Homo sapiens: one gene and its partners. The main gene of each other region encodes a partner of the protein of the gene in region 3 in a complex. Each region holds a gene or a part of one and is shown on either strand. Other genes may lie near its edges. A codon is read from its position in the direction of its gene.

The links.
Region 1: GTF2F1 (region 3) and POLR2B share a complex: the UniProt entries of both Homo sapiens proteins name them as parts of the TBP-based Pol II pre-initiation complex.
Region 2: the proteins of GTF2F1 (region 3) and CTDP1 are in contact, whole or in part, in an NMR structure (PDB 1ONV), measured with the Homo sapiens proteins. Residues at the interface, in NP_002087.2 of Homo sapiens: Thr470 (codon at 1,996), Lys471 (codon at 1,993), Leu474 (codon at 1,984), Gln478 (codon at 1,972), Ser486 (codon at 1,948), Thr489 (codon at 1,939), Val490 (codon at 1,936), Leu493 (codon at 1,927), Ala494 (codon at 1,924), Leu497 (codon at 1,915), Lys498 (codon at 1,912), Leu500 (codon at 1,906), Asn501 (codon at 1,903), Pro502 (codon at 1,900), Arg504 (codon at 1,894), Met511 (codon at 1,873), Phe513 (codon at 1,867); in NP_004706.3 of Homo sapiens: Ala946, Asp947, Met949, Ala950, Lys951, Ala952, Leu953, Glu954, Glu956, Leu957, Asp959, Leu960, Met961.
Region 4: GTF2F1 (region 3) and GTF2A1 share a complex: the UniProt entries of both Homo sapiens proteins name them as parts of the TBP-based Pol II pre-initiation complex.

Annotation. Positions count from the first base shown.
Region 1 is NC_000004.12:56,988,304-56,996,886, reverse strand, and holds part of POLR2B (DNA-directed RNA polymerase II subunit RPB2), read right to left. Parts: intron 6,140-8,583; coding exon 5,989-6,139; intron 2,813-5,988; exon of another isoform or gene 2,717-2,812; intron 2,484-2,716; coding exon 2,371-2,483; intron 2,241-2,370; coding exon 2,021-2,240; intron 1,637-2,020; coding exon 1,478-1,636; intron 1-1,477. UniProt on the Homo sapiens protein: Catalytic core component of RNA polymerase II (Pol II), a DNA-dependent RNA polymerase which synthesizes mRNA precursors and many functional non-coding RNAs using the four ribonucleoside triphosphates as substrates.
Region 2 is NC_000018.10:79,744,300-79,752,882, reverse strand, and holds part of CTDP1 (RNA polymerase II subunit A C-terminal domain phosphatase), read right to left. Parts: intron 1-8,583. UniProt on the Homo sapiens protein: Processively dephosphorylates 'Ser-2' and 'Ser-5' of the heptad repeats YSPTSPS in the C-terminal domain of the largest RNA polymerase II subunit. This promotes the activity of RNA polymerase II.
Region 3 is NC_000019.10:6,378,432-6,384,107, forward strand, and holds the end of GTF2F1 (general transcription factor IIF subunit 1), read right to left. Parts: intron 5,065-5,676; coding exon 4,880-5,064; intron 3,420-4,879; coding exon 3,266-3,419; intron 3,185-3,265; coding exon 3,123-3,184; intron 3,048-3,122; coding exon 2,928-3,047; intron 2,765-2,927; coding exon 2,691-2,764; intron 2,612-2,690; coding exon 2,473-2,611; intron 2,260-2,472; coding exon 2,142-2,259; intron 2,055-2,141; coding exon 1,850-2,054; 3' UTR 1,141-1,849; downstream 1-1,140. UniProt on the Homo sapiens protein: TFIIF is a general transcription initiation factor that binds to RNA polymerase II and helps to recruit it to the initiation complex in collaboration with TFIIB. It promotes transcription elongation.
Region 4 is NC_000014.9:81,196,765-81,205,347, forward strand, and holds part of GTF2A1 (transcription initiation factor IIA subunit 1), read right to left. Parts: intron 7,341-8,583; coding exon 7,136-7,340; intron 6,071-7,135; exon of another isoform or gene 5,931-6,070; intron 4,895-5,930; coding exon 4,830-4,894; intron 721-4,829; coding exon 645-720; intron 1-644. UniProt on the Homo sapiens protein: TFIIA is a component of the transcription machinery of RNA polymerase II and plays an important role in transcriptional activation. TFIIA in a complex with TBP mediates transcriptional activity.

The DNA of each region.
Region 1 (8,583 bases), on a different chromosome or scaffold from region 3:
TCTCACATCCCGGGCTCAAGCAATCCACCCACCTCAGCCTCCCAAAGTGCTGGGATTACAGGCATGAGCCACCACACCTGGCCACCTTCTCAATAAGGATTGTGTGTTTTCATGATCTCTTAACAATACCCAGCAATGTTGTGCACATGGGAAGAATGCTTATCTTACAAATAAAATATTATGAAAAACATTCTTGAGGTGACAGGTATGCTAAGTACCCTAATTTGATCATTACACATTGTATACACGTATCAAAATATCACATTGCATCCCACACATGCATAATTATTAAATAAAATTGAAGGCCGGGCACAGTGGCTCACGCCTGTAATCCCAGCACTTTTGGAGGCCGAGGCGGGCGGATCACGAGGTCAGGAGATCGAGACCATCCTGGCTAACACGGTGAAACCCCATCTCTACTAAAAATACAAAAAAAAAATTAGCCGGGCGCGGTGGCGGGCGCCTGTAGTCCCAGCTACTCGGGAGGCTGAGGCAGGAGAATGGCGTGAACCCAGGAGGCGGAGCTTGCACTGAGCCGAGATCATGCCACTGCACTGCAGCCTGGTGACAGGGCAAGACTCCGTCTCAAAAAAAAAAAAAAAAAAAAATATATATATATATATACACACACACACACACATATACATACACACACACACACACACACACACACACACACATGAACTGAAATAGAGGTTTTCCAAGATAGCTGTAAAAATTAAATCAAGCAATCTGAGTAACAGAATTGGCATACAGCAAATATTTAAGAACTGCTAGCTACTACCAGGTTCCATTATTATAAGCAACCTATGCTTATAACTATACCAGTGGTCTGCAGCTTCTAAGCTGGTACCCAATGATTCCTGCCTCCTACTATTGCCCTTGTAATACCCTCTTTAGTGTGAGCTGGACATACTGACTTGCAACCAACAAAAAGAACATGGCAAAAATGACAGGATGTTGCTACCACTTTTAAGTTATAAAAGACTGATTTCCACCTTGCTCGTACTCTCTATGGCTCTTTTTGCTTACTCTCTCTGAAGAAGCAAGCTGCTATGCTGCTGTCAGCTGCTATACGCAGAGGCCCACATGGCAAGGAACAAAGAAAGGCTTCCAGCCAACAGCGAGCAAAGACCTGGGACTCAGTCCAACAGCCAATGAAGAACTAAATCCTGCAGACAACCATGGGAATGACTCTTGAGATTACGGCAGCCCAGGGAAACATCTGATTGCAGCCTTGTGAGAGTTGCTTGGCCAAAAGACCCAGCTAAGCTACACCCAGATTCCTGACTCACAGAAGCCGTGAGATGATAAATGTTGCTAGAGGAGTAATTTGTTACACAGCGATAGGTAAACAATACGATATATAACAACAATATGCTCCAGAAAAGCTTCTATGGACAAAGAAGGCAGTCTAGTAAATTTTAAAACAAAGCACAAAGGAATAAACCCAAATAGCATCATATCCAGTCCATACCTGTCCTCCTCTTGCCAGCATGCTAACCCATATAGTACTGGTGGGTCGGGAAGAATTCTCAAGACATGATCTACACTCTCCTGTGTAGGCATATTTAGAATCCTTTTTGGCAAACACATAAACTGTGTTTGTTGCCATTTTCTCTTGGGCAATCAGAACCTATTTGGACAATAAGAAAGTTACAGCCATAAAATCCAAAACATCACTGAAGAGAAAAGAGAGTAAAATCTGCATCTTAATTTAATCTGACCATATAGGCTCACTGAAATATTTAATTCTTCAACTTTACAAACTCCATTTTGCATAAATGCTTCATAGAAATACATAAACTCCAAAACTGACCAAATTCCCAGTGCATGTTATATACAGCTAAATAAAGCTTTGGTTTATATAAGTTTAGCTGTCATACCCTAAACAAGTCAACTGTCAGTGCCAGGTTATCCTGCAGGAAAATCTTTCTTTCTTTTTTTTTTTTTTTTCATTTCAACTTTAAACTAAATTTTAACTACCATTTTGTAATTTTTTAAAATAATGTTACTATACCTTTTCTGATCCATTAATAATGAAATAGCCACCAGGATCCAAAGGGCATTCATTTAACTCACAAAGATCACGATCTGTCAAGCCATTCAAAAGGCAGTAAGTTGACCGCAACATAATTGGAATTTTTCCTATAAAAGTTTTCTGATGCTGAGTCTGAAGTTGTTCTTCACCTTCTTTAATGACTGTTTTTGTTATATCAACATAAAGCGGAGCAGAATACCTTTGAAAATAAAAGTAGATCACAGTTAAGCAATAGGGTATCTGTTAAAACAAATCCTCAAGTGGTTAAAATTACATTTTCAAAATTCTATTTCAGTATCTACTGCTGACAAGGAAAAATTCTTTCTTACGTGAGATTCCTTAATCTAGCTTCATTGGGCATCATTGGTGAAGGAGCACCATCTCTTTCCCAATGGGTAGGCTTGGAAAGATAAATTTGTTCAAACTTCAGCAAATATCGTGGCTGAAATTAAACAAAAAAACATGAAAAGGGTAAATAATTTTTTCCATAAAAGTTTTAGTGATTCCATTTTAATTGACATTAACATTTTAAGTACAAGCAACTCTACAAACTGGCAAAATTAATCCATTTTACTGAAATGGGGACTTCCCAAAGTCAATATCCATATTGCATAGACGTTAAGTTTTAAACCAAATCACTTTCTTTTTTCCTCTTTTCTTAAAAATTTTTTTTCACATTAGACAGGTAATGTGCTAACAAGGTTTGTAACAAGGTTTAAGGAAGGCACATCTCACACCCAATCATCACACACTTATCAACTACAGAAGGATCTGCTAATTGCTTTCTTAAGGCAGAAGACAAAAAGAGACTTAATATACTAAAAGTAAAGACTGTACACATCATGTGCTCTGAGTTTATATGAAACAGTTAAAATGGATTTACATTAATGATCTACATAGTTTCTTGTGCCCTCTCCTTGGTAAGCATCATCAAAAATACAAAGTGACCAGAGAACAAAGATAACAAATCCAGACAACTAGAACTATGCTCTAATCTAATCAATAGAACATTTTAAAAAATAAACCTCTCTTCAGTTAAATATACAAATTAATCTGTCAAAGGAGTAGAGTTAACAAAAGAAAAAGATTTTTTTATTTTAAAAAACACACAAAATATCCTAATCATTCTATATAAAGGGCTGAGAATTTCCAACTCTGGCTGGAATATAGCTTAGTTCATAGAAAAAAAAAGAAATTTTTCAATTAAACATTCACTTGCTGCCTAATAAAACAAGATCCATGAGGACAACTTTCTAGAGATAAATGGATAGTGTACTTTTCTCTAAATCAAGTCTCAGAGAAGAAAACAGGAGTAAGCAGACGTTTTACTAATGATTAATTATTGACACTCAAGTCTCCCAAGCTGGGCTGGATAAAGGGCAAAGAGAACGGTGGTGATAACGAACCAAAGGGAAGCCAATCCTCTACTCCTTATCTGTGCCATCATCTAGTCTAGGTCATTATTATCTTAATCATAGGCTATTCTAAGATTTTTATCTCCTCCAGTCTCTTTTGTTTTGTTTCATTTTGTTTTGTTTTGTTTGAGACAGGGTCTCACTCTGTCACCCAGGATGGAGTGCAGTGGCGTGATCTCGGCTCACTGCAGCCTCCACCTCCTGGGTTCAAGTGATTCTCCTGCCTCAGCCTCCCAAGTAGCTGGGACTACAGGCGCACCACCAGGCCCGGCTAATTTTTGTATTTTTTGGTAGAGATGGGGCTTCACCAAGCTGGCCAGGATGGTCTCAAACTCCTGGCCTCAAGAGATCTGCCTGCCTAGGCCTCCCAAAGTGCTGGGATTACAGGCATGAGCCACCACATCTGGCCTCCTCTAGCCTCTTTCTATTCCAAGCAAGCATCACTTTCCAAAGTAACTTTTCTAAAATAATGCTTTATGTATATTCTTTGACAGTCTCTCAGTAATTCCTCATAACATCCAATGACATTCAAAGCTTTCAACAATCGGGTTCCATCTTATCTTCCTAATGCCTATTAAAAATAGAGAAGCCCTGTAATCCCAGCACTTTGGGAGGCCAAGGAGGGCAGATCATGAGGTCAGGAGATCGAGACCATCCTGGCTAATACGGCAAAACCCTGTCTCTACTAAAAATACAAAAAAATAATAGCCGGGCGTGGTGGCAGGCGCCTGTAGTCCCAGCAACTCAAAAAGCTGAGGCAGGAGAATGGCGTGAACCCGGAAGGCGGAGCCTGCAGTGAGCCGAGATCGCGCCACTGCATTCCAGCCTGGCCAACAGGGCGAGACTCTGTCTCAAAAAAAAAAAAAAAAATAGATAAGCCAAAATCACATACTGATCATTGTGGTCCCCAGCCTAAATACACCAAGTATTTTCTTTTCTTTTTTTTTTTTTTTTTTTTTTTTTTTTGAGACAGAGTCTCGACCTCTCGCCCAGGCTGGAGTGCAGTGGCGTGATCTCAGCTCGCTGCAACCTCCGTCTCCCACGTTCAAGCAATTCTCCTGTCTCAGCCTCCCTAGTAGCTGGGACTACAGGTGCCTGGCACCACACCCGGCTAATTTTTGTACTTTACTAGTAGAGACGGGGTTTCACCATATTGGCCAGGCTGGTCTCAAACTCTTGAGCTCAGGTGATCTGCCCGCCTCGGCCTCCCAAAGTGCTAAAATTATAGGCATGAGCCATCGCACCGGCCACACCAAATATTTCCTTGCTGAAATGACTAAGCACCTTTTCTCTTCTAAGAGAGTTCTTCATAGTAAATTTAAGTCTCTTCCATCTTTTCTACTAAGCTCTGATAACTAGGTGTTAGAGATCTACTCCTCTTTTAGTACTTCTGTTACTGGCACGTTCAATTTGCTATGTTATATTGTTATCTGGCTTGTTATACAAAGACCATGAAGAAAAAATGACCCAACAAGCCAGGTGCAGTGGCTCATGCCTATAATCTCAGCACTCTGGGAGGCTGAAGCAGGTGGATCACTTGAGGTCAGGAGTTGGAGATCGGCCTGGCCAACATGTGAAACACCATCTCTACTAAAAATACAAAAAAATTAGCCAAGCATGGTGGTGGGCACCTATAGACCCTGTAAAAAAGAAAAAAATGACCCAAGAATAAAAAAGAAACTTAATGTCCCCCTTTCCAGCACAGCCCTAGAAGAGCCAATCACTTTCATTCTTAACAGCAAAATTCTGTACAGCATGTCCAACTAAAATGGAAATAACAGACCAGCACTTAGGAGATAAGCTACACAGAAGAGAAACTGATCAGGCTAGAAACAATGAACTCTCCCTGTGTCTAGCTCTATTTTGGGGGCTTTCCCTACCTCACTTTGTTTCTCAGTTTTCCCTGTCTCTCAAAGTCCAATATGTTCCAACAGCTGCCTCTCAACTTCTCTAAAACTGGGACAGTCATTATTTTGGACTACATCCTTCTTATAATCACTCATGTAAAACCAAATTATAAAATTATACCCTTAGTATGATTTTAACAATGCTAAAAAACCTGCATATATGTGAGCAAAAGCTACAAGAAACTTAGTAAAGATAGCTGCTATGTTTGGGTGATTTTCCTTTCTTATCTCATATGGTTATAATAATGTACTTCATGCAATATATAAAATCAGATGAAAATTCCTTCAAACATTTTTTATTATTTTTACACTGTGAGAGAAAAAAGCGGGGTTATCTATCTAAAGCAATGTGACCATCTCTGGCTCACTTCTCTTATTTGTTCATATTTCAGAGTCCTCTCTTCCCAGCTATTCAATACCTACTATGTGAATAAGGATGGGATAACTTGCAAAAAAACACACCTCTTCATTAGAGAAAATAAATCAGAAAGTGATTGACGGTGCTGTAAGTACTTTGCTAAAAGCTCCAACTGACTTTTTTTAACCTTTAAGCCAGGTAAGAGAAGGGCTAAAATTTCAAACCAATACGCTTCTTGTACCTGTGTAACTATTAGAACTATCTTACCGGTTCTTCAACTTCTCCACTAGCATGCTGAGCTTCAGCCTGTAGGTCTATAGGAGGAGCGTCTTCCACAATTCTTTGAACAGACATCTGAATAAACTCATCAAAAGAATCCAGCTGTTGTCTAACCAAGCCTTTCTCGTCAAAATAGGAACTGGGAAAATATTTGAGTTCAGTCAGTTGCAACTCAGTGATAATTTCTAGCATAATTCCCCATTTTCATTATTTCCCCATTTTCATTATTCAAGAAACAGTCATAAAATACCAACCATTATATGTCAACCACTAAACAAGACACTATGAGGTATCTTAAAAAGGATGAAACCGGGCATATTTTCTTTGTAGAACTTATTATTTGGGGAAAAGCAGCTTATATTTGGGGGTAAAATACTTAAAGCACAATATAAGAACTATAAGGATCCCAGCTCCTGGGAGGCCAAGGCAGGAGGATTGCTTGAGTTCAGCCTGGGCAACGCAATGAGACCTCATTTCAACAAATAAGAAAAAAATTAGCCAGGCATGGTGGCATGTGCCTATAGTCCCACATATTCAAGAGGATGAGGTAGGGGGATCACTTGAGCCCAGGAGTTTGAGGCTGCATTGAGTCATGATTGCATCATTGCACTCCAGCCTAGGAGACAGCGAAACCCTATCTCAAAGAAAAAAAAAAACTTTATGCCCTTTATGGACAAATTTTATTCCACCTCTTTGAAGTACTTCTTGACAAATATGTCAGGAGAGAAAACTAAAGAAAAGTCAAAGATAACAATAAGAACTTTCATTTGAATAGGACGGAGGGTAGTGATATTAATGACTAAAATAATGCATGAGAATGCCAACTTTAGGTTATAGATCATTAGTTCTATTTTGAATTCTTAAAGGTAGGATAAGAAGAATAAGTCTTTACATAAAAATACTCAGCAAAAGACTGGTGATAAAAATGCAGCATGGCTGAGAGAGCTGCAATCTAAAAAGCAGACATCATATTTATAAGGAACAGATACTTTTCAGGTGAGGGGTGGGGAAAGACATACAGAGACAAGTAGATACACGTGCAAGAGGATCTCAACAGATCACTCCCTATTACCATCCAGGGACAGCTGCAAAGCTGGGCATCACAGAGGCTGGAGGATGTAGCACAACCCTCAAGATTATCCCATCACCCTTCAGCAGTAGGAAGTGCCCCACCACACCTCCACGTCTCCACTCCTATATCTTGTGACCTCTGTCATCTTATATCTGTGAGACCTTCTTAGCTTCTACTCCCCAACTACTGACTCCCCCATCTTCACATCAATTTTCTAAGACAATATGCAGAGTCCAACTAATCATCAGCCTCCCATTTTGGCTTCATCAGGTCACCTCGCACATCAGTGACAGGCCAACAAATTGGCCCCACCCTGATCCAGTCAAGTATGGCCACCAAAATTAGAAGTTAGGTCCTATGGTAGAAAACACAGCAGACAATCACACATGTGTAAGGTATGACCTAAATAACAGTTGGGGCAATTTATTTCAGTAGAGACTGTCACATAATGGGAAAGAAATTTCTCACAACCATGTGGATTAGCCATTGATATTGTAAGAAAAACATGGCATTGCCTGTAATATACATAGCCATGGTTTTTTATAGGCAATTTAAGATGAATAGCTTCTAAACTATAGATAAGTTTCATTACCCCAGGAAGCTGAACTATAGCTACTTTACCCAAAATCATTAGAATGGTGCTTAAACACCTAAACTATATAAATATTTCATATTTATGATCTCTACTCTGTTTATTTTACCTGAAGTCATCTTATGAAGTTACTTGTGATATTAACTAATATCACATTCACAAGATCACTTGATATTAAAAAGTAAAAAAAAATCAAAATTCATTTCTCAATAGCCAAAGTATCTACAGTCAATTTAAACTTAAAAATCAAATAATTTATTTTGTAACAAATGATAAATGCTATGACAGTTCACAATAGAGTATTTTATCCTTGAGCAATCTACCACATATGTTGAAAACAACTTCTTTTCACCTAAGATAAAATATTTTTTCTACCGGGAGAATGTAGAATATAGGCACACTCCACAGAACATCTACCTGGTTATTGTTTCCTAATAAAATATCTCTTGGTGTTTAACACCCAAACATCACAGAAGATGTAACTGTCTCAGTAAAGTTTAGTCTTCTACAGCCAATTTGTTTTATTTTTTGTGTTTACAAAAGTTTACTCTTAAATGGCTCCAGGACAATGCTTCATTCTAGCTATAGGTGGCAAAAGATATTATGGCAGGGAATACAGATGTTTAAATACAAATGGAATCAAAGGTCACCATCACCTCAGGCACAATGAAAAGCTGACTTTTTGCCAGATTTCTCTTTTTTTCTTTCTTTAAAAAAAAAAGAGATAGACAGGGTCTGGCTATGTTGCATAGGCTGGTCTCAAACTCCTGAGCTCAAGTCATCCACCGGCCTCAGCCTCCCAAAGTGTTGGGATTACGGGCAGGTGCGAGCCACCTCGCCAAGACTTTTTGTCAAATTTCTTAATTCTACCTGTGGCCAGGGGCCCTTTCCCCACAGCCTTCTATTTTAAAGCTTTTTC
Region 2 (8,583 bases), on a different chromosome or scaffold from region 3:
CATAACCAGCCGGTGCCACTAGGCTTTCCTTAGGAGCCTCTGCATAACCAGCCGGTGCCACTAGGCTTTCCTTACGAGCCTCTGCATAACCAGCCGGTGCCACTAGGCTTTCCTTAGGAGCCTCTGCATAACCAGCGGGTGCCACTAGGCTTTCCTTAGGAGCCTCTGCATAACCAGCCGGTGCCACTAGGCTTTCCTTACGAGCCTCTGCATAACCAGCCGGTGCCACTAGGCTTTCCTTACGAGCCTCTGCATAACCAGCCGGTGCCACTAGGCTTTCCTTACGAGCCTCTGCATAACCAGCCGGTGCCACTAGGCTTTCCTTAGGAGCCTCTGCATAACCAGCCGGTGCCACTAGGCTTTCCTTACGAGCCTCTGCATAACCAGCCGGTGCCACTAGGCTTTCCTTAGGAGCCTCTGCATAACCAGCGGGTGCCACTAGGCTTTCCTTACGAGCCTCTGCATAACCAGCCGGTGCCACTAGGCTTTCCTTACGAGCCTCTGCATAACCAGCGGGTGCCACTAGGCTTTCCTTAGGAGCCTCTGCATAACCAGCCGGTGCCACTAGGCTTTCCTTAGGAGCCTCTGCATAACCAGCCGGTGCCACTAGGCTTTCCTTAGGAGCCTCTGCATAACCAGCCGGTGCCACTAGGCTTTCCTTACGAGCCTCTGCATAACCAGCCAGTGCCACTAGGTTTTCCTTAGGAGCCGCTGCAGGTGCACCTGGTTTCTGTGACGTGAGCCGACTTGATCGGGGCACACCCAGGAGATCCCCAGAGCCCTGAAATTCCAACCACCTGATGTCCTGCCAGACACCCTCCCTCCTGGTGCCGTGCTGGGACGTCCCACTGCGCCAAGGAACCTCAGCTACAACCTTAGAGGTGGAAGCCTGGTTAAATGTGCACAGCCTGTTTTGATTTTACCCTGATTAGGGGCAACTGAGCCATACTAGCCTTCAGTTACAATCCCGAAAAGTCACTGAGAGAAACTAGGGACAGTCACCATATGTGAGTACCCTAAGAATATTTTCTTAGCTAACGTAGATACAATGTAGCTAACATACACACCTATGTGACACATTATGTGTGATACAGCCACACACACACACAGCAGGCATATAACACACATGCACTCGAGGCTCACACACAAACTATAGCACGGTAATGTGATACACCTGCACGCACACACAGCACGCATGTAACACACATGCACTCGAGGCTAATATACACAAACTATAGCGCAGAAATAACTTGAAACCATTCTTGCTGGTATTAGAAGAATCACAGTTCATTTATAAGAGACAAAAGGAATAAAATCAGCTGATCAGATGGAACCAACAGAAGACAAGAGAACCCCGTGGGCTGGCACACACAGCCGATCAGTCACGACAAGCTCGTTCAGAGAACCCAACTGTTCGTGGTCCAGGAAATACCGCATGAGAGAAACACAAGGGCCCCAGAACTCCAAGTCCTGTCCAGGTGGCAGGCACTGGGCCGTAGGATGACAGCCCCTCCCCCGCTCCCTCCTTCCCTCCTGGACCTGCCTCTGTGCCCAGCCCCTCCCTCCCTGGCCTGCCCTCTGTGTGCCCAGCCCCTCCTTCCCTGGCCTGCCCTGTGTGCCCAGCCTCCCTCCCTCCCCGGCCTGTCCTCTGCGCCCAGCCCCTCCCTCCCTAGCCTGTCTTCTGTGCCCAGCCCCTCCCTCCCAAGCCTGCCCTCTGTACCCAGCCCCTCCCTCCCCGGCCTGCCTCTGAGTCCAGCCCCTCCCTCCCTGGCCTGCCCTCTGTGTGCCCAGCCTCCCTCCCTCCCTGACCTGCCCTCTGTGTGCCCAGCCTCCCTCCCTCCCTGACCTGCCCTCGGCGCCCAGTGCCTCCTTCCCCAGCCTGTCCTCTGTGCCCAGCCCCTCCCTCCCAAGCCTGCCCTCTGTACCCAGCCCCTCCCTCCCCGGCCTGCCTCTGAGTCCAGCCCGCTCTGTAAGATGGGAACTGCCATCTTTCATCACATACTGGGACCCCTGGATCCATGAGATCCTTTCTTAAAAAGCAATGCATCCCATCATTTAAAAGCGGAGTAGGCAGGGCGTGGCGGCTCACACCTGTAATACCAGCACTTTGGGAGGCCAAGTCAGGCGGATCACCTGAGGTCAGGAGTTCAAGACCAGCCTGACCAACATGGTGAAACCCCATCTCCACATTAAAAAAAAAAAAAAAAAAAAAAAGCAAAAAATTAGCCAGGTGTGGTGGTGGGCACCTGTAGTCCCAGCTACTCGGGAAGCCGGGGCACGAGAATTGTTTGAACCCGGGAGGCGGAAGTTGCAGTGAGCTGAGATCACGCCACTGCACTCCAGCCTGGGTGACAGAGCGAGACTCTGTCTCGGGGGGGAAAAAAAAAGGCAGAGTAGCGGGAAGTGCACGCCCTAATACCTGCCGTCCAAGTTTTAAACGAATTTATTTTTATGTCAACTGGAATGAATATTTTCTACTGAGAAATAAAGGCTTACTTTTAATTGCTACATGAGAGTGAGGGGTTGCAAATTAGCTGGGAGTGTCGGTGCATGCCTGGAGTCCCAGCTATTTGGGAGGCTGAGGAAAAAGGATCCTCTGAGCCCAGGAAATGGAGGCTGCAGTGAGCCTGGGCCATGACCGCAACACTGCACTCCAGCCTGGGCGACAGAGCAAGACCCTGTCTTAAAAAAAAAAAATCTCCGCGCACCTTTTCTGTGCACCTGCTTCCCCTCTGCACACCTCGTCTGCAGATCTTGTGCCCGTGCCTGTGTTGGGCTGGGCACCGCCCGCTTCCCCTCCATGCCTCATCTGCAGATCTTGTGCCCGTGCCTGTGTTGGGCTGGGCACCGCCTGCTGTTTGCTTTGAGGACGCCAGGCGTATCATACACGAGTTTCCTTTATTTCCAGTCTCTGCTGACACTAACGACGCTGTCAGGGCCACGAGTCTGGCCTCCGGTTGCTACAGCAACAAGCTTTTGGCAATTAACAAATTCATCAGTCATCTCTTTTCCTCCGCATACACGCTGACGGCTGTTCCGGGAAAACCCGGCTCCCATCCTCCCATTAGGCTTCCTCCACCTCACTCCGTTTTGAGAACTTGAAACAAAACAAGACAGAGACAGTTCTCGTAAACGTGAAGGTGCTGCCGTGAGGGGTGTCCCGAACCCCTGGAAGAGCTCAACCCACTGGCAGGTGGACGGGACAGGAGACCCTTGCGAACAGAGGCGGTGTTTCAGGCCCCCAGAGCAGTGCATGGCGCTGACCTCGGGGAGGGGGCAGTCATGACTGTGAACAGGAGAGCCGAAGTGCCCTCTCAGGTCGAGCTCGGGACGGTCACCAAGTCCAGGAGGGGGCGGGCCTGGATCTCGTGTGCACGGGGCGCGACCCTCACAGTCTGGTGCCCGGCTCCCTGCCTGTGTGCTGATGCCTTGCTCAAGGGAGCCCTGGCCCCTCCTAGTGGGGCCAGACTCGGGGGTGCTGGCAGGTGTGGTTGACTCCCTCACAGCGACGCTGGGTTGGACGTATCAGGGGCACTGAGCAGAGCAGGGGCAGGGGCAGGGGCCCCGACCGAAAGTGAAGACGGGGCAGACGAGAGCCAGGCGGGACCCTGGGGCAAGCAGGGAGAGGAGGGGGAGGGCGAGAGGTGCAAGAACCAGTTCCAACAATTCTTTTCTTTCTAAAATCAAGCGAGGAAGCCATCCGTGGCAGAGTTCTAATGGCAGCAAGAGGATGGCAAAGAATGGGAAATGCCAGCTGTGACTCTCTGTTTGAGGTTTAGAAATATGTTCCCCTCACAAGGCCGACAAAAACACCCAGAGTGCTGTTGACAGCAGGACACACCTTCAGAAACGCCAGCATAACTTGGCAGGGTGCCACAGGACCTGAACCGAGCCCACGGAAGGGACCACCTCAGCTCCCGCTGGAGAGCCCTGTGCACATGCACCAACACGGCTCACACACAGACACGGCTCACACACAGACACGGCAAACACACAGACACGGCAAACACACAGAACGGCTCACACACAGACACGGCTCATGTGCAGTCACGGCTCCCAGGCAGACACGGCTCCCAGGCAGTCACGGCTCACACACAGACATGATAATGATGACTCTAAAGGCCTCTGATCATGACTCTGTCGCTGTTGTGTGAGATGAGGCGGCCGCAGGCGCTCATGGCATTCGCTGGGAACAGTTTCTTGTGGATCCACAGCTGGGGACGCTGTGGTCTGGGGCTGTGCTAAGTGCTTCTTCCTTAGATTTTCACAAGAAACCTGCGGGCAGGCGCCACCATCCCCATCTCACAGCAGGGGCCTGGACCTCACGATGCTGGTAAGAATGCTGAGAAACGTCCTCCACGCACTTTGGAAAAACGTAGCTGACTCGGGAGACAGGGTCAGGGCTTCCATGAGGCTGAGTGTCTGGGACCAGGTCAACGGCTTCCACCCTGAGGGGTCACAGAGCCCGGGCTGGGGCGGCCCTCCCTCCATGGGTCCCCCCAGGCCCTGCGCGGTCCCTCCTGGTGCTGCGAATGCTGCACCCTCGGTCTCGCTCCGTGATGAAGTACAGGGAGCGCCTCACTAAGGTGGCACAAAACCTTTGCTCTTAGTTAAACGATGTTTGGAGCATGGGATTTAAAAATACGAGATGAATGGACTTTAGTCATTAAAAATTACCTCGAACATTAGACACAGCTGCAGACTATGGTTAGTAAATGTCCGCAACTGATACTAGCTTCACTTCCTCAGCATAACATGCAATATTTGTATTTTGTTCATACAACCAGCTGCACAGCTCCATAGAGAAATGTTAACAGATAGAATTTGGGGAAAATTTACAGCTTTAACATTTATCTCAAATTCAACATTGAATAAGGCAAGAATACAAACAGAATAATATATATGTATACCCCACCCCCATATTTCAGTTTTCCAAACACACTGGGCTGTCACAGTGCACACGATTTGGCACCGGAAAGATATCCGTCAGTGCGGCAAATGCACAATTGTGTCACACCAGCATCTAATCCAAAGGGGATGGAACAATCCACAGGCACAGGGTTCCCGTGGCCACTGCCAGCGTGGCCGCGGGAACAAAAGGGAAGACCAGTGCTGCTCACCGTGAGGCCGCCACGTCACTAAAAAACCCGTGCCGGCGTGGCCAGGTCTGCACGCACCGGACACCTGCAGGAGGCGCTGCGCATGGCGGATAATTTCCCCAGTGCACCCTGGAGTGGAACGTGGCGTGAGAGCGGCGTTGGGGCTGCCCAAAGCAGGTGAAGCCTCACACAAGCGTGGGGGGCTCCGCGGGGACCTGGAAGGAACCCACCAGATGACGTCAGCGGGACCCAACAGTCCAACCACCTACAACACAGGGCTGGGCTCTGCCAAGGAAAGCAGGCGGCAAGAGCTGGTCTGCTGCTGAGAGTGGGCCCGGGCCCAGGGAGAGCCAGCGGTGCCCTCCCTCCGTGGCGTCTGCACCTGAGTCCCAGTTCCCGCAGGGCCCCAGCGGGGATGCCACAGCTCTGGGTGTGAACATTGTCATGCTCTCCTCAGCAATCTCATGGCATTAGAATGAACCTGTGTGTGTTACAGGTGGAAGAGGGGCAGGGGCCCTTCCCAGCAGGGAGCTGGCCGGGCGCTCACCACACCTGACCCTCCCCTCCGAGAGCCTGCTGCCAGGCCGGGGCTCTTTAAAGTGGGAAGTTCAGTGACCTATTTTAGGGTAAGAATTGCTGCTTCGTGTATTGGTATGAAAGGACTGGAAAAAAATTAATGTCTCTCATTTAAAATTGGGCAATCATTAAAAAACACTATTTGATTCAGCAGCTTTGTACCCAAATTCTAAACTGCAGGCACCAGAGTGGCTGGCAGCACACGGTCAAGTCACGCGACCAGGAGCCTTTAGCCCTGTGCACCAAGGACCACTTTAACACCCCTAGGCACGGTAGGCACAGTGGGCACGGTGTTCACACCTGTAGGTCCAGCACTTTGGGAGGCTGAGGCGGGAGGATCGCTGGAGGCCAGGAGTTTGAGGCCAGGCTGGTCTCAATGGGCAACAAAGGAAGTCCCCATCTCTACAAAAAAATTTTAAAAACATTAGCCAGGCATGGTGGTGCGCACCTGTGGTCCTACCTACTTGGAAGGTTGAGGCGGGACGATCCCTTGAGCCCAGGAGTTCAAGCTTCCAGTGAGCCATGATCGTGCCACTGCACTCCAGCCCAGGCAACAGAGTGAGACCTTGTTTCTTAAGCCCCTAAGTATGGGGTGGGCAAGGCAGGGCCTCCTGACCTGTTCACAGTGACAGCAGTTGTCAAAACGCTCTCACTTTTCCAAGAGATGCAGTTTGTGTAGCTATGAAAACACGAAAAAGCAAACTTTCACAAACCAAAACTCCGCGTGCTATGTGAAGGGAGAACGAACACAACCTCCACCTCCGACACCCTCGAGTGGCAAACCCTGAAGAGACCGCAGAGTCAGAACACGCATGGGAGGGACGCACGGACAGAACGCGCATGGGAGGGACGCAGGGTCAGAACGCGCACGGGAGGGACGCGGGGACAGAACGCGCACGGGAGGGACGCAGGGACAGAACGCGCACGGGAGGGACGCGGGCACAGAACGCGCACGGGAGGGACGCGGGGTCAGAACGCGCACGGGAGGGACGCGGGGACAGAACCCGCACGGGAGGGACGCGGGGACAGAACGCGCACGGGAGGGACGCGGGGACAGAACGCGCACGGGAGGGACGCGGGGACAGAACGCGCACGGGAGGGACGCGGGGACAGAACGCGCACGGGAGGGACGCGGGCACAGAACGCGCACGGGAGGGACGCGGGCACAGAACGCGCACGGGAGGGACGCGGGCACAGAACGCGCACGGGAGGGACGCGGGCACAGAACGCGCACGGGAGGGACGCGGGCACAGAACGCGCACGGGAGGGACGCGGGCACAGAACGCGCACGGGAGGGACGCGGGGACAGAACGCGCACGGGAGGGACGCGGGGACAGAACCCGCACGGGAGGGACGCGGGGACAGAACGCGCACGGGAGGGACGCGGGGACAGAACGCGCACGGGAGGGACGCGGGGACAGAACGCGCACGGGAGGGACGCGGGGACAGAACGCGCACGGGAGGGACGCGGGCACAGAACGCGCACGGGAGGGACGCGGGCACAGAACGCGCACGGGAGGGACGCGGGCACAGAACGCGCACGGGAGGGACGCGGGCACAGAACGCGCACGGGAGGGACGCGGGCACAGAACGCGCACGGGAGGGACGCGGGCACAGAACGCGCACGGGAGGGACGCGGGGACAGAACGCGCACGGGAGGGACGCGGGGACAGAACCCGCACGGGAGGGACGCGGGGACAGAACGCGCACGGGAGGGACGCGGGGACAGAACGCGCACGGGAGGGACGCGGGGACAGAACGCGCACGGGAGGGACGCGGGGACAGAACGCGCACGGGAGGGACGCGGGGACAGAACGCGCACGGGAGGGACGCGGGCACAGAACGCGCACGGGAGGGACGCGGGCACAGAACGCGCACGGGAGGGACGCAGGGACAGAACGCGCACGGGAGGGACGCAGGGACAGAACGCGCACGGGAGGGACGCAGGGACAGAACGCGCATGGGAGGGACGCACAATCCAGTCAAACACGTATGTGTGCTGACCACTCATCTTCCCCACAAAAATTATCCATGCCACAGTCATTACAACTGCTTTGGAAAAGCCTGAAACTCACATGAACTTACATGTCGTGGGGACACCTCCTAATCCCAGGAGCACCTTCTGATTCCCCACCCCACTCTCAGGACCCACAAGTCTTTCCCATGGAGTGGCCTGGTACCCCTGCTGAGAGCCAGCTGGCCATGGACATGGGGCTGTTCTGGGATGGACACTCCTGCTCCACGGCCCAGCACACTGTCATCACACCAGCCTCCGTTACTCTGAAGCACGATGTGCGTCCTCTGGCCTGCTCTTCCTCAAGACCCTCCAGGGTCTCCTGCGTTCCTGTAAGAGCTTCAGGACTGGTCTGTGGCCCCTCCAGGGGCAGCATCCTCCCACGACGCCCCCCATGACTGAGTGGCGGGGGAACCTCCAAGGTCTCGCCATGGCCGCCTCTCCCTTTGCTTGTCAGTTTCTGCCACTGGTGAGTTGGTTCTCACTTCCGGTGCACATGTGCTAGCAACTGTCACTCTTCCCGATGGATCCAGCTCTTAGCATCGTAATTCCATCCGTTATCATTATAAAGCGTCCTTCTTTACCTGTAGAAGCATTCTTTGTTTAAATTCAGTCTTCTCTGATATTAGCGGAACACTCCAGCTTTCCTACGGTGATGGCCTCTGACCCAGTTGTCCATCCACTCATAGTTAAAGCTCTGAATCCCCTCACGTTCACACCGCCACTCTGCTTTGTTTCTCATGCCTCATGTAGTTTTAGTTCCTGTCTTCCCTTTTCTGTTTTCTTTTGCATTAAGTGAATACTGTCTAATGTAACATTTTGGTTCCTTTTGTGAACTCCAAGTATCTGTGTCAGGTCTCACTTAACTTAAAAAGTTTATTTTGCCAAGGTTGG
Region 3 (5,676 bases):
TCCAGGAACTGGAAAAGCCCTCCCTTACAGAATGCCTGGCAACGCCAGATCAAATATATGCATGACCGAGCTTGTAAGAAGGGAGAAGCCCCCCGAAACATCACCGGGAACCTCAAACATAGGGACCCACAATCGGGGCAGTGGGGGGGGTTGGCTTTGGTGGCCACCTGCAAGCTGAGAACCACACACAAAATGGGCTGGGGCTGGCGCTCCTGGGTAGCTAGCGAAAGCCAAGGCTGAACCATCTGGAAGGACTGCCTGCAAAGTAGGCCACCCCGGATTCCCACAGAGCCCCCAGCTGGCCATGAGCATCCAATCCCAAATCACAAGAAAATCTATCACTAAGGGGAGTCAGAAGAAACAAAAGGATGCCCGGGAACTTCAGCTTCTAGGATTGTCAGACCTCAGTCAGGATGAGTAAAATAAAAACATCAGCCAGGCGTGGGTGGGTGCAGTGGCTCACGCCTGTAATCCCAGTACTTTGGGAGGACGAGGCAGGCAGATCACCTATGGCCAGGAGTTCGAGACCAGCCTGGCCAACATGCTGAAACACCGTCTCTACTAAAAATACAAAAATTAGCCAGGCGCGGTGGCGGGCGCCCGTAATCCCAGCTACTCGGGAGGCTGAGGCAGGAGAACTGCTTGAGCCCAGGAACCAGAGGTCGCAGTAAGCCGAGATTGTACCACTGCACTCTAGCCTGGGCAACAAGAGTGAAACTCTGTCTCAAACAAAAACAAAAACAAAACACATTAGCCAGGCATTTAATGGTACACGCCTGTGGTCCCAGCTACTCAGGAGGCTGAGGTGGGAGGATTGCTTGAGCCCATGAGTTCAAGACTGACCTGGGCAATACAGTGAGACCTCACCTCTACAAAAAATTAAAAAATTAGCTGGGCGTGGTGGTGTGCACTACTTGAAAGGTTAAGGTGGGAGGATCGCTTCAGCCCAAGAGGTGGAGGTTGCAGGGAGCCAAGACGGTGGACACTGCAATCCAGCCTGGTGAACAGAGCAAGACCCTGTCTCAAAACCTAAAATATAAATAAAAATAAAACCATGAAAGATGGGACCAAAACATAAGGAATAAGACATTATCCAAACAGAGTAGCAGATCTAAAAAGGAAACAAAGAAATCTGAGCAATTTATTATTATTTTTTATTTATTGAGACAGAGTCTCACTGTCACCCAGGCTGGAGTGCAGTGGCGTGGTGTCAGCTCACAGCAACCTCCACCTCCCAGGTTCAAGTGAATCTCGTGCCTCAGCCTACGGAACAGCTGGGACAACAGGCTCCCGCCACCATGCCTGGCTACTTTTTTTTTTTTTTTGTGCCAGGATTTCATTCTGTCACCCAGGCTGGAATGCAGTGGCACCATCATAGTTCACTGCAGCCTTGAACTGGGCTTAGCCTCCCAAGTAGCTGGGACTGCAGGCGCTCACCATCATGCCCAGCCAAAACTGAAGACTTACTGGGCTATGTGGTGGATAAGTCACAGCTGAAGAGAGACTTAGGGAAGTGGAAGGGAGAACTGTAGAAGTTACCCAGTGGGCAGCACAGGCCCTTGGTCAGTGTGAGGGAGGCCGAGCCAGGAGGAGGAGGACAATAAGAAGGCCTAACAGGCATCTGAAGATTCCAGAAGGAAGGGCCAGAGGAGGAGATGGCTTAACTTTTCCAGAATTGCTAACTACGGGGCCCTGGGAGTCAGGGAGCAAGCAGGATGTCGAAGGGTCACTGAGAGCCTGAAGTTCTGGAGGGCAGAGCCATGTATTGGACAGAGCCTCACTCTAGGATGGCGAAGGGGCAGTGAGAGCCTTAAGTTCTGGGGGGCAGAGCCATGTATTGGACCAAGCCTCACTCCTTGAGGGAGAAGTGCATTTTGTCGTTGATCATCTTGCGCTCGGGGTTGAGTCGCTTGAGGATCTGGGCCAACACGTTCACTGTCTGCTCGCTGCTCAGCCCTGTCTTCTTGGTCTGGAACTTTTTCAGCAGGTCCTTAGTGGTCATGGGCTTCCGTGTCAGGTAGCGGCGCACGGCATCCTCAGTCACCTGCACGTCGCTGAGGATGGGAGGACGGGGAAGGTGGCATCAGTGAGATTGTCCCCAGTAGCCCTTGCCCTGCCCCCTGCTGTCCTCGTCAACTTACCCGCTGTTGGGTGTTGTCTTGCCTGATGGTGGCTGGGGTGTCGACTTCCCAGACAGGCTCTGGGGTCCCGTGTCCAGCCGCAACCGCTTGGCTGCAGGCATCTCGCTCACCCGCTTCCCTGTGGGAGTGGGGTCAGGGCTGAGTCTTGCAGGCAGGAGGCAGAACCCCTGGGCAGGACCCCAGGCTGGGCAGTGCCAGGATTAGGGTTCAAGGGGATCAGGGAGAGACAGGCCTCCACCCGCATCTCCATCCCCTCTCTGTCCTGAGCCCCAACAGAGGTCAGGAGGCTGTGGCTGTGGCTGTGGGGAGCGGGGAGGCCACGGGCACTCACCTTGCTCGAGTTTGCTGGCAGCCGCCCGCAGGGTGGAGGAGGTGCTGCCACCCTCTGCGCTGGGCGTGCCTGGGCGGCTGTTGCCCCTTGAGCTCCCTCCCGACGGCTTCCGCTCTCTCTTGGGTGGCGTCTTCTTCTTCTGCAGAGGTCAGGGTTGGGAGGTGGGTGAGTCTGCAAACAGACGCCCAGGCCTCCCCCGCCACCGGGCTGGGCCTTACCGCCATGAAGAGGGCTGAGGAGGCCTCGCTGTCAATGTCGCTCTCCTCTGAGCTGTCCGACTCCTCGCTGCTGTCTGCGGGGCACAGGAAAGGGGTCAGGGCCAGAGCAACCCCGGGACCCGGTGCCCACTGGTGCCTCCACTGCAGATGAGGGAGGCCTGCAGGGGAGAGGGGAGGAGGTGGCAGGGCGCCAGGGCCCGACCCAAGCCTCCAATATGGGGGCCACATGCGCCGCACCTTTCCTGCGCTTCTTCTCCTGCGGGGTGGGTGCCTTCTTCTCCTCCTCCTCCTCCTTGTCCTCCTCAGGCGGCTTCTCCTCCTCACTCTCCTCACTACTGTCGCTCTGCTCATCGACACCTGGGAGGGGCAGGGTATGAGCAAGAGCAGGGAAGCACCGCCCCCATCTCCCCGGCCCGCCCAGCCATCGCCTACCCTTGGGCCCCTCCTCCTGCTGCGGCGCCTTGGCCTTGCTCTCAGGCTCTTCTTGGGAGCTACTGTAAGACGGGGATGGCAAAGGATGAGCGCGCGCTCGCGAGGCTGCATGGGGTCTCGCAGGCGCCTCCCGTCGGCCTCACCTGGAGCCGTCTGACATGTAGTCCACCTCTTGGCCCTCGAAGTCCCCATCATCGCTGTCCTCGAAGGCCTCGTCGTCTGAACCCTTCTTCTTCTTCTTTTTCCTGCCGCCCTTGGCCAGCGGCGCCTTCTTCTTGGCCTTGGGGACTCTGCCCCCTGGGAAGGGAGGAAAGGAAGGAAAGGAGGGAAAGTGAGGAGGAAGGCAGTGGGTATTTATTGTGTTTTTCACATTTTGTGCAGTTTTGACATCCTGGGGGGCCTCACTGACTGGGGAGACTACACCTCCAGGGCCAGCCCAGGAGCTCAGCTCTCCTAAACAAACTCCCGGCAGACCCCACACCCCCACCCACCTTCTCTAGCGCTCACAGACCACTCCCCCTCTCCCAGACCACCCGGGCGAGGCACCTGATAACCAGGGACACAGCCCCTACAGCCCGGAGCGCACAGGAGTTATTGAAACTGGTCAACCTAGAGTTGCAGTTTCTCATAGGAACCCCCGTAAAGGCCACAGCCAGGCCAGGTGCAGTGGCTCATGCCTGTCATCCCAGCACTTTGGCAGGCTGAGGCGGGAGGATGGCTTGAGCCCAGGAGTTTCAGACCATCCTGGGCAACACAGTGAGTGAGACCCCAGTCTCTACAAAAAACACAAAAATTAGGCCGGGCGTGGTGGCTCACGCCTGTAATCCCAGCACTTTAGGAGGCCGAGACAGGCAGATTACCTGAGGTCGGGAGTTTGAGACCAGTCTGGCCAACATGGTGAAACCCCATCTCTACTAAAAATACAAAAATTAGCCAGCATGGTGGTGCATGCCTGTAGTCCCAGCTACTTGGGAGGCTGAGGCAGGAGAATCACTTGAACCTGGGAGGCAGAGGTTGCAGTGAGCCGAGATTGCGCCATTGCACTCCAGCCTGGGCAACAGAGCAAGACTCTGTCTCCAAAAAAAAAAAAAAAAATTAGCCGGGTGTGGTGGTGCACGCCTGTAGTCCCAGCTACTCAGGAGGCTGAGGTGGGAGGATCGTTTGACCCTCGGAGGTCAAGGCTGCAGTAAGCTGTGATTGTACCACTACACTCCAGCCCATGTGAGAGAGAGAGAGATCCTGTCTCAAAAAAAAAAAAAAAAAAAAGAAGGGCCATGGCTCAGCTCTCCCGGGCTCTGGCCTTGCCTCCTGACTGACATCACTGCTCCTCCAGGCGGCCTCGCCTGACTCTCATTCTTTTTTCTCTGAGACGGAGTCTCTCTCTGTTGCCCAGGCTGGAGTCCAGTGGCGTGATCTCGGCTCAACACAACCTCTATCTCACGGGTTCAAGCAATTCTCCTGCCTCAGTCTCCCGAGTAGCTGGCACTAGAGGCATGCACCACCATGCCCAGCTAATTTTTGTGTTTTCAGTAGAGACACGGTCTCACTGTGTTGGCCAGGCTGGTCTCAAACTCCTGATCTCAGGTGATCTGCCTGCCTCAGCCTCTCAAAGTGCTGGGATGACAGGCGTGAGCCACTGTGCCCGGCCCCACTTGCCTCTCATTCTAGGGCCACTGTGAGCGATGGTAGACTTTGCCTTCACTGGCACTGCCTGAGCAGGCACCTCTGTGACCTAATGCCCAGGCGCCCGTACTCACCCTCCTCACCACTGGCATCACTGGCATCGGACGACATCTCCAGGTCGTCCTCCAGGTCGTGGATGCGCAGCTCGCTCGCCTTCCTGCGGCCACGTTTCTCCTTCTCCTCCTCATCCTCGTCCTGGTCCTGATCCTTGAGCCGCCGCTGCTGCATGATGCTGAAGTGGTTCAGCACCTTGTTCCTCCTGCGGGCCAGGCACAGGGGGGCTCATGCCGGGCCTGGCACCACCCTGCATCTGTGCTTGCAGGGGGCGAGCCCCAGGGCACCACCCACATAGCCTTCAAGGTGATGTGGCCCCCGGGGACTTGGGCTGTGGCACAGGACTCCCTGAAACCACACGGATAGAGCCAGCCCTTCCTGCCTTCCCGTTCTGCCCCGAGTCCCTCAAAGAGCAGGTCCCCATGTGCTGCTGGAGTCTCAGCACCTCCCTCGGACTCAGAGTCTGGCCCCAATCCAGTCACACTGGTTTCTTGCTATTTTTTATTATTATTTTTTTATTTTCTGAGACAGAGTATCGCTCTGTCGCCCAGACTGGAGTGCAGTGATGTGATCTCGGCTCACTGCAACCTCCGCCTCCTGGCTTCAAGCAATTCTCCTGACTCAGCCTCCCAGATAGCCGGGGTTCCAGGCGCCTGCCACCACGCCCAGCTAATTTTTTTTTTTTTTTGTATTTTTAGTAGAGACAGGGTTTCACCATGTTGGACAGGCTGGTCTCGAACTCCTGACCTCATGATCCACCTTGGCCTCCCAAAGTGCTGGGATTACAGGTGTGAGCCACCGTGCCCAGCCAGATCTT
Region 4 (8,583 bases), on a different chromosome or scaffold from region 3:
CCTTTAGACAACCCAGAATCTTGAATTGATTAAAAAGCAAATTACATCTTATTAAAATATGTAGCAAGACAAGCCCCTAATTTCACAAATTTACAAATTAACAAAAATAACATACACAGAATAGAAAATAAATAATAACTATATAATCAAGATTATAGGGAACACTTAAAATCCATGTAAATAAATTTTTCAAGCACCAATATGCCAAAACACATGAGCTAGACATTGGTCTTTTGTCAATGAAGAGATACTATGTATAATAATAGCATACAATAAATTTGCTCTTAATATGCTCTAGGAATTACTTTGATATCACAAGTTCAAAGAAGTTTAATACTCACTTGGCATGTTAAATGTGTTCAGTAAAAAACTAAGTAAGCATTTTTATATAATCATACTTCAATAATAGGGTTATCATGCACAGATCAAAGGTTCAAGTACAATTTTCATCTTCTTTACTGTATCCTCAACAACGATTACAGTTATATGTGTTACAGCCCTCAAATAAAGTTATTTTAATAACCTAAACCAAATGGTAAAAGAAATATTAGTATTTTCTGTCTTTCAAAGAAGACAAAACCTAAGGGCTAGATAGTACAATTTTCTGAATTACATTTTAAAATGGTTCCATCATTCCTAATTACCTGAATTTGTTAATATCTGCTGAACAGGAGTCACACCTGCAGGGAGTGCTAAGGTAGCAGCTGTAGCAGCAGCACTCTGAAAAAAACAAAGAAAAAATATCAAAACCACATACATGTATAATACTGTTTCTCTCTAGCATATTTTAATAGTGTATGAAACTTTTTGTTTAGAATATACCAAAATTTAAAAAATCTAGTAAGGCTAAATCCCATTTTATAAAATGGTACAAGACTGACCAACCTAGCCTCCAACCTACTAAATTATTTTAAGCAGTTAAATACAACAATATAATTGGGTTTTTTCCCCTAGAGAAGGTGCTCTAAGTAAATCTCACAGGTACTGCAGTTTTTTTTTCCTTCTTGTCCCATCAATCTTCTTTAAGGTACCAAGCCTTCCTATACTCAATCTAACCTACACATTTTTAGACAATACCCACATTAACAATGCTGTACAATATATGAAATGGCTATTTCATTATTGCTTCCTTTCCCACTGTTTCCTTATCCCCATTTCCTTGAGATAAAAGTATAATTATCTACTTTTTAGAATTCTTAACTTTTAAAATTTCTACTAAAATCAACAGATATCTATAAAGAACACTGTATCAGAAGACTTCACTGGGAGTACAGCTGACAATTCTTCTAAGATGTCATATTAGCAAAGAAAAAAGGGACATACTGGCATTATATTCTAGGTGAAACATGCATTAATAACAGATTAATACAAAAAATCTGTAAATCTTAAGAAAAGTCACACCAGGCAGACTGGCTCACGCCTGTAATCCCAGCACTTTAGGAGGCCCACGTGGGCAGATCGCTTGAGCTCAGGAGTTTGAGACCAGCCTGGGCAATATGGTGAAATCCCATTTCTACAAAAAATACAAAAATTAGCTGAGCAGGGTGGTGCACACCTGTAGTCCCAGCTACTTGGGAGGGTGAGGTGGGAGGATGGCTTGAACCTGAAGGTGGAGGTTGCAGTGAGCCGAGATTGTGCCACTGCACTCCAGCCTGGGCAATAGTCACAAACTTTAGTTTCAACATTTTGAAATCAAGTTAGTATGTGACACTTAAGTTATAAAGATATAGACGGGATTATATTATGAATTTCTTTAAATCCAGGACAAATTCTTGACTTCCTGGAGAGTTCTGGAGAGTTTTCTCCTCCTGTCCTCCCGCAAAGAATTATGCCATTCTCTGGTTTTTTATTCTGCACTTTAAGTATTTTCCTGTATCCCGCTATAGCTACACATTTTGGTAGTTTTTTCCCTCTCTTTTCAATCTTCTTTAGCTACCAACCATTCATACATTCAATCTAACCTATACAGTTTTAGAACTACCCATATCTGAAAAAGCTTAAAAAAATAAATATAACTGCTTTGGAAATGCTAGTGTCAGAGAAGTCAACAAACTTAGAAAATTATTAAACTGAGTTAATAGTTCAACTACTGTCTAGTCTGGGCTCTAGGTACATAGCTTTCCAAGAAAATACACTTGTTGCCACTTGACAAACCTAAGTAATTTCTACATCTTGGGCCTGAAATTCCCACTGTGTCTCCAGAATTTAACTATAGCCCACCCGGGTGATTCGTATTTAAGTTGGATACTCAATTACCCAATTTAAAATAAAACTTGGCTATATAAGCAAATTAAAGGTTATCTAAGTTTAAGGAAAATATTAACCACCACATACTATTAAGAAATATTTAAAAAGAAAAAAACAAAAATATTTAGAAATATTAAGTGCCTATAATTCATATTTTGAAAGACAGCAATTCTCCCTCTACCAGCAAACTGACATAGTAGTTTCCATATAGAATACACGACCCAATAACTACCTGCACACCCTCCACAAATTCAAGCTGCATAACATATATTTGCTGAGTCATGTACCATACACTAACCACCTTATACTTAATAACTATTAAAATTTCTTCTTGTATTCCACAAAACAGCCCAAACACAAATAATGCATTAGACCAATCATTTCATAAAAAAGAACCGAAAACAATGGTTTTCTAGAAGTTCCCTGAAATAGCCTTCTACTATATTATCTCACGTTTTTATGATTAGTTCATTTCTAATGCAAACAGAGCCATTAGAAAGAACAAATATATTTTTGCTATTTCTAAATCAGAATAATGCAAACCCACAAAAACCTAAAACACTTTTATTGGTACAGAGCCTATACTGATTATGTTCAGAAATACATGAAGGAAACACTGACTAAAAACAACAAAGTAAAATGTAAAATATACAGAAATGTTAAATCAATTTTCCTGAGTAACTGACCTATGATTTGTTTAAATACATATGCTCTTTAGAATAAAGGAGACTTAACCAGTAAGTAAGAGATGGACCACTAATTTTTATCCCAGAAATAACTTACTAATTCAAAATTCTCTTCCACAACATTTAAAATTCTTTTAGAGGGGCCTACCACAAGAGACTCTGCCAAAATTTGTTTTAAAATAATGTGAGTTATTCCCTAGGATATAGTCTTAATAACATCAACTACAATAAGCAACATATAGTGAGACTTTTTTTTTTTTAAGGGTGGAGGTTAAAAAAAATTGGGGCCTTAGACTTAAAATGGAGTTTTTTCCAATAAAAAATCTTGTGAGAAATAACAGGCATGAAATTTTTTATTTTCATGTAAACGAAAAGATTCTAGAAACTGCAACTACAAGTACAAACAGAGATCCTCGATATTTGTGAATTTAAAAACTGCAATTTCTACTATCATGTAGAAACTTTCAATTCTGCCACAGTATGAATTTGTGAGGCTGGTAATGTGTAGGAGGAAGTCATCTGTCTAGTGGGTAAGCCCTTCTTATCTGGCTTATAAACCACAAATGAACTTTGTGATTCAGTATCACTCACAAAGTAGAACTCATCTTTTCATACACTGCTTTTTGGTTTAAAAAAAAACTTGAGGCTGGGCGTGGTGGCTCACACCTGTAATCCTAACACTTCAGGAGGCCGAGGTGGGCAGATCGCTTGAGGTGAGGAGTTGGGCGACCAGCCTGGCCAACATGGTGAAACCCTGTCTCTACTAAAAGTACAAAAAAATTAGCCAGGTGTGGTGACATACACCTGTACTCCCAGCTACTCAGGAGGCTGAGGTGGGAGGATCACTTGAACCTAGGAGGCGGAGGTTGCAGTTAGCCAAGATCACACCACTGCACTCCAGCCTGGGTGACAGGGTAAGACTCCATCTTCAAAAAAAAAAAAAAACTTGAACGGAGGGAAAAAAAAATCTCATTTCTAGTACTAACTAGTTACATAGGTTAAAAGATCTTTTTACAAATATTGATTCTTTCACCTTTAAATAAAAGTTTTGGCTGAAGAATGAAATGTAAGAGCTGAGTCACCACTCAATGAAATCAACAGTCTGTATATTTTAAACAGAATAAAGAAAAACCATTTATAAGGAAGTATTGAACTACTCTAATCTGACTATATTTTAATGTTTTATCCAAAAAAAAAAAAAAAACAAAAAACAACTTCAAGGATATAGGTAAAGATTTTCTAAGGATCTGAAGAGGTTCTTTCAAGTTTACAGTTAACCTATACTACATTTGTTGAGAAATATTATATGTCTGAAATGTAATTTGAAAATATGAGTGAGGACTTGTAAAGTTTAGTGGATAGTCCTCAGAAATATAAAAATTCTAATATAACTCAGCTGGTTAAAATGTATTCTGTGGTAATTTACACACTATAATGACTTATTAGACTATACTATGGTTAAGTCAGAGTAATATTTTTAAATGCTTGATTTTAAAAATAGTTATACTGAACTATCCAGTCTATCTTCATTTTTTAAAAGTTCACAATTCTTAGCCTTCCCACCCTCTTGCAATTACTAGGTCTCCTGAAACAGAACCATACTTGGCATTATAAGCTTGGTAGGTACCCTAAAACTTTTTCGGAAATAGTAGGGAATGGAATAACTCTCACAAAGCACCATTCTTTTGGTATTCTTAAACAATTCCGTAATTTTATGAACCTTAATGTCTAGGTACCAAGCTAAACTTCAGATCCAATATTCAGGAAACTAAAACAGCTGTTTTGCTTGAGTCTTCAATAAACTTCAAGTAGTTAATATAGGACATATATAGGCATAATTACAATGTGGGTTAGAATTAAGTACAGCCAATCAAACTGCTACATTCTGAGTCTTACCATGTTTGATGCATTCATATGCTGTATCAACTTAGAATCTGGAACAATAACTTGTGGTGCTGTGGCTACAAAAAAACAAGCGAACATGCAAACAAGGAACCATGAGGCTATTTTATAATCACAAGAACACTTTACATACAATGATGAAAACTTTTTTCATGTTTTTCATGTTTTCTGCACTCAAATGCTTTCAATCATTTCATCTCAGGACATTATAAATGTATATGGCAAATAACAGCTGTGATATACCCACCCTATACTAGAAAACATTAAAAAATATTTAAGCCCAGGCGTGGTGGCTCACACCTGTAATTACAGCACTTTGGGAGGCCAAGGCGGGTGGATCACTTGAGGTCAGGAGTTCAAGACCAGACTGGCCAATATGGTGAAACCCCATCTCTACTAAAAATACAAAAAAATTAGTTGGGTGTCAGGCTGAGGCATGAGAATCACTTGAACTCCGGAACTGGAGGTTGCAGTAAGCTGAGATCACGCCACTGCACTCTAACATGGGTGACAAGGTTCCATATCAAAAAAAAAAAATTAAGTGGCAATTCCTAAGGATGCAAGGGAATTTAGGAACATGAAGTAGTGAGTTACCTTAACATCTAAACATAAATAGTTCTATGCATTCTTAAGTAAACTGGACATTTTCAAACATAATTTTGTCTTAACTCAAGGTTAACTGTTTTACTGATACAATGATACCACTGTTACAATGAGTTACTAATCCAATAAAAGTAAGCTCAAAAAGTTGTGACTAGTTTTTGAAATCTACATAGTCCTTTTCTTCCAAATATGACAGCTGACAGACTCATGCCACTTTCATCAGCTGTTTAAAAAATACAAATCAGCCGGGTGCAGGGATGCATGCCTGTAGTCCCAGCAACTCAGGAGGCTAAGGTGGGAGGATCACTTGAGCCCAGGAGTTCTGGGCTGTATGTGCTATGCTGATCAGGTGTCCAAATAAGTTCGGCATCAATATGGTGGCCTCCTGAAAGCAGGGGACCACCAGGTTGCCTGAAGAGTGGTAAACCGGCAAAAGTCGGAAAAAATACAAATCAGAAATAATGGCAATGTTACTTAAGCGTAAAAGGAATTACATGTTTGATTCCGCAAATTTCAGAGAACAGATAACTCCATTATCCTAATATTCTCTGAGTGAAGAAAATCAAATTTTAATTTATGATGACCTAAAATCCTAATGCCAGGTCTGAAGGCAACAGGAAGAACAGTCATCAAAAAAGAATAAAAGGATAAAATTATTTGATACAAAGTACACATTAAAATTAGGTATGAAAAGTACCACTAGATATCAACAGTAAAATAACCCAAATACTCTTCTACTGTGTGTCATTACCAATTTTAAGACACATATATATACTGTCAAATGAGGCAAATGAGTAACTAAATGATATTAAAATGAACTTTTCATTTACTTCTAGTGTCCTCTCCCATAAAAGCAGATGCACTGAATTAGAATGCTCAGGAAGTTTTATAACTGAATAGATGTTTGTCATGAGAGAAAATACAGATCAAGTTTCTTAGCCTTTTCTGGGCTCAGATTTTCCTCAGCTGTAAAACTGAGCCAAGGGCTATTTTACAAAGCCCTTATAAGATGCCAGTGAAACAGTATCTATAAAATGACTTGCAGAGTACAAGGCACTATGGACACAGTCTATGAATATTTGCTTTTTCTTAGCTTTAATCCAAGTAATATAAATTAAGATATGTTATATATCCACTCTTAACTTAAAATAAATCTAATTCAGTCCATTTAGGCTTACATAAATTCCTATGGAGCTGAATTTTCAGATTGCCAAAGTATACAAAAAACTCCAGAATGTAAGATATATTTTAAAAACTAATCTGAAACATGTCTTTGAAAGAACATGTTTTATAGAGAAAGCAAATAACTATTGTACCATATAAAATAATAAATCCCTTAGTAAATAAACCTTTTAGATTTAACTTAGGAAATCCATCACTATATAGCCTTTTCAAAACAAAATATTAATATAACTTCTCTGAATATCTTAGGCTTTCAATTAGTAAATTACTTGTCTACCATTACTCTACAGATACAACCTACATTGTATACAAATTTATATACATTTACATACACATCCCTCAGCCAAGAGAAAGGGGGGAAAAAGCCCGAAATCAACAGAGGGGTTTTTGTTTATTTTTAGGTTCTCCATGTGCCCCTTAAAAGACAAGATCCAAAAAATGCAGAATATTTCTCTTCTTTCATAATGACAAACTTAATTTCCAAGTCATAAGTAGGAAAACAAGTCCAGTCTCACCTTGCTGTGATGCAGGAATAAGAACCTGCTGGGTCTGCGCTTGCTGAGGTACTGTCTGCTGAGGCTGAGCTTGCTGATGATGGTGATGGTGGTGATGCTGCTGCTGCTGGGGTTGATGCTGCTGTTGAACTTGCAGTAGAAGCTGCTGCTCTTCTGAATGAAATCCATCTACTGCCCTGGACTGCATTAGTTTGTTTTCCCATAACTAAGGCAAAGAACATTAAAGATTTCTAAGTGAAAAATAACTCTGGACAGATGAATACAACAGTTTTATTAATCTCTTTATAAAGTTATTCCATTTTAAAAACTGATACAGACACAGAAATACAACAAATCTGTAATTCTAACCCAAGTGAAACAATAACAAAAACAAAATTTTAAAGTATCAAACCTCATTTTTGCCACATCAGAGTACTGAAGATTTTGTTTCTTTTTTTTATCTTCCAATGAACTTTCTATAGTAATTCCTTAATCAGCAGTTATTATTAAGCGATGAGTTTCATACAAGCAACTTCTTTAGTAATCAAAGATTATCCTTTATAATAGCAAAACCATTACTAAACTATTTTTATATGGAACTTTTTCCTTATAAAAATAGAAAATACAAAATTTTCTGCAACATATAAAACATAAATTCTTAAATAACATACAAAACATAAATTCATTTACAACAGTGAGATACATAGATGCAATCCCCCAAAGAAGAAAAGCCTAACTTTCCATCTGTCCAATCCTACATAAAGAAAAAGAACCGGCAACGCCCGAAGGTCTTAGTAGTTATCCCAACTCTCCACACTTCTTGAAATGTCCTTCCTTCTTCCATTACGCCAATTGACAATCCTTTTCTGTTTAGCCATTTCTATTTTCTCATTTCACCTTAGGTTCTATGATGGGAAAAATCATAATGGACAAAAAGAAAGAAAAGAAAAGAAAACATGTGCAACGATTTCATTCTTCTACCTAACACATTTCCTCTCTACCAGGTTTAGTGTTCAATCTAGAGCCTTTACCTTTTAAGAAACTGGCCAAAAAGTCACAAACTATTCCCTGAAAATACAGATAAAACTTCATTTGGTCATTCTGTACACAAGGATCTACACATACTTTGTCTTCTCCTCCAGGATTTGCTCTTGGCATATTGCCTAATTGACCTGAAGCTTCTATCAGATCCTTCAAGAACTTCCCTTTGCCATACTCACAGAGAGTTTCTTTATTTTTTTATTTTTTTTTTTAATTTAAGAAATAGTGACAAGATCTCACTATGTTGCCCAGGCTGGTCTCGAACTCCTGGGCTCAAGCAATCTGCTCGCCTTGGCCTCCCAAAGAGCTGAGATTATAGGCGTGAGCCACCATGCCTGGTCATACTCACAGAGATTTTTTATAATCTTCTGACCCTTCCAATCATTCCAGACATTCTAGATTTGTTGTCATGATGCTAGTAACAGTTC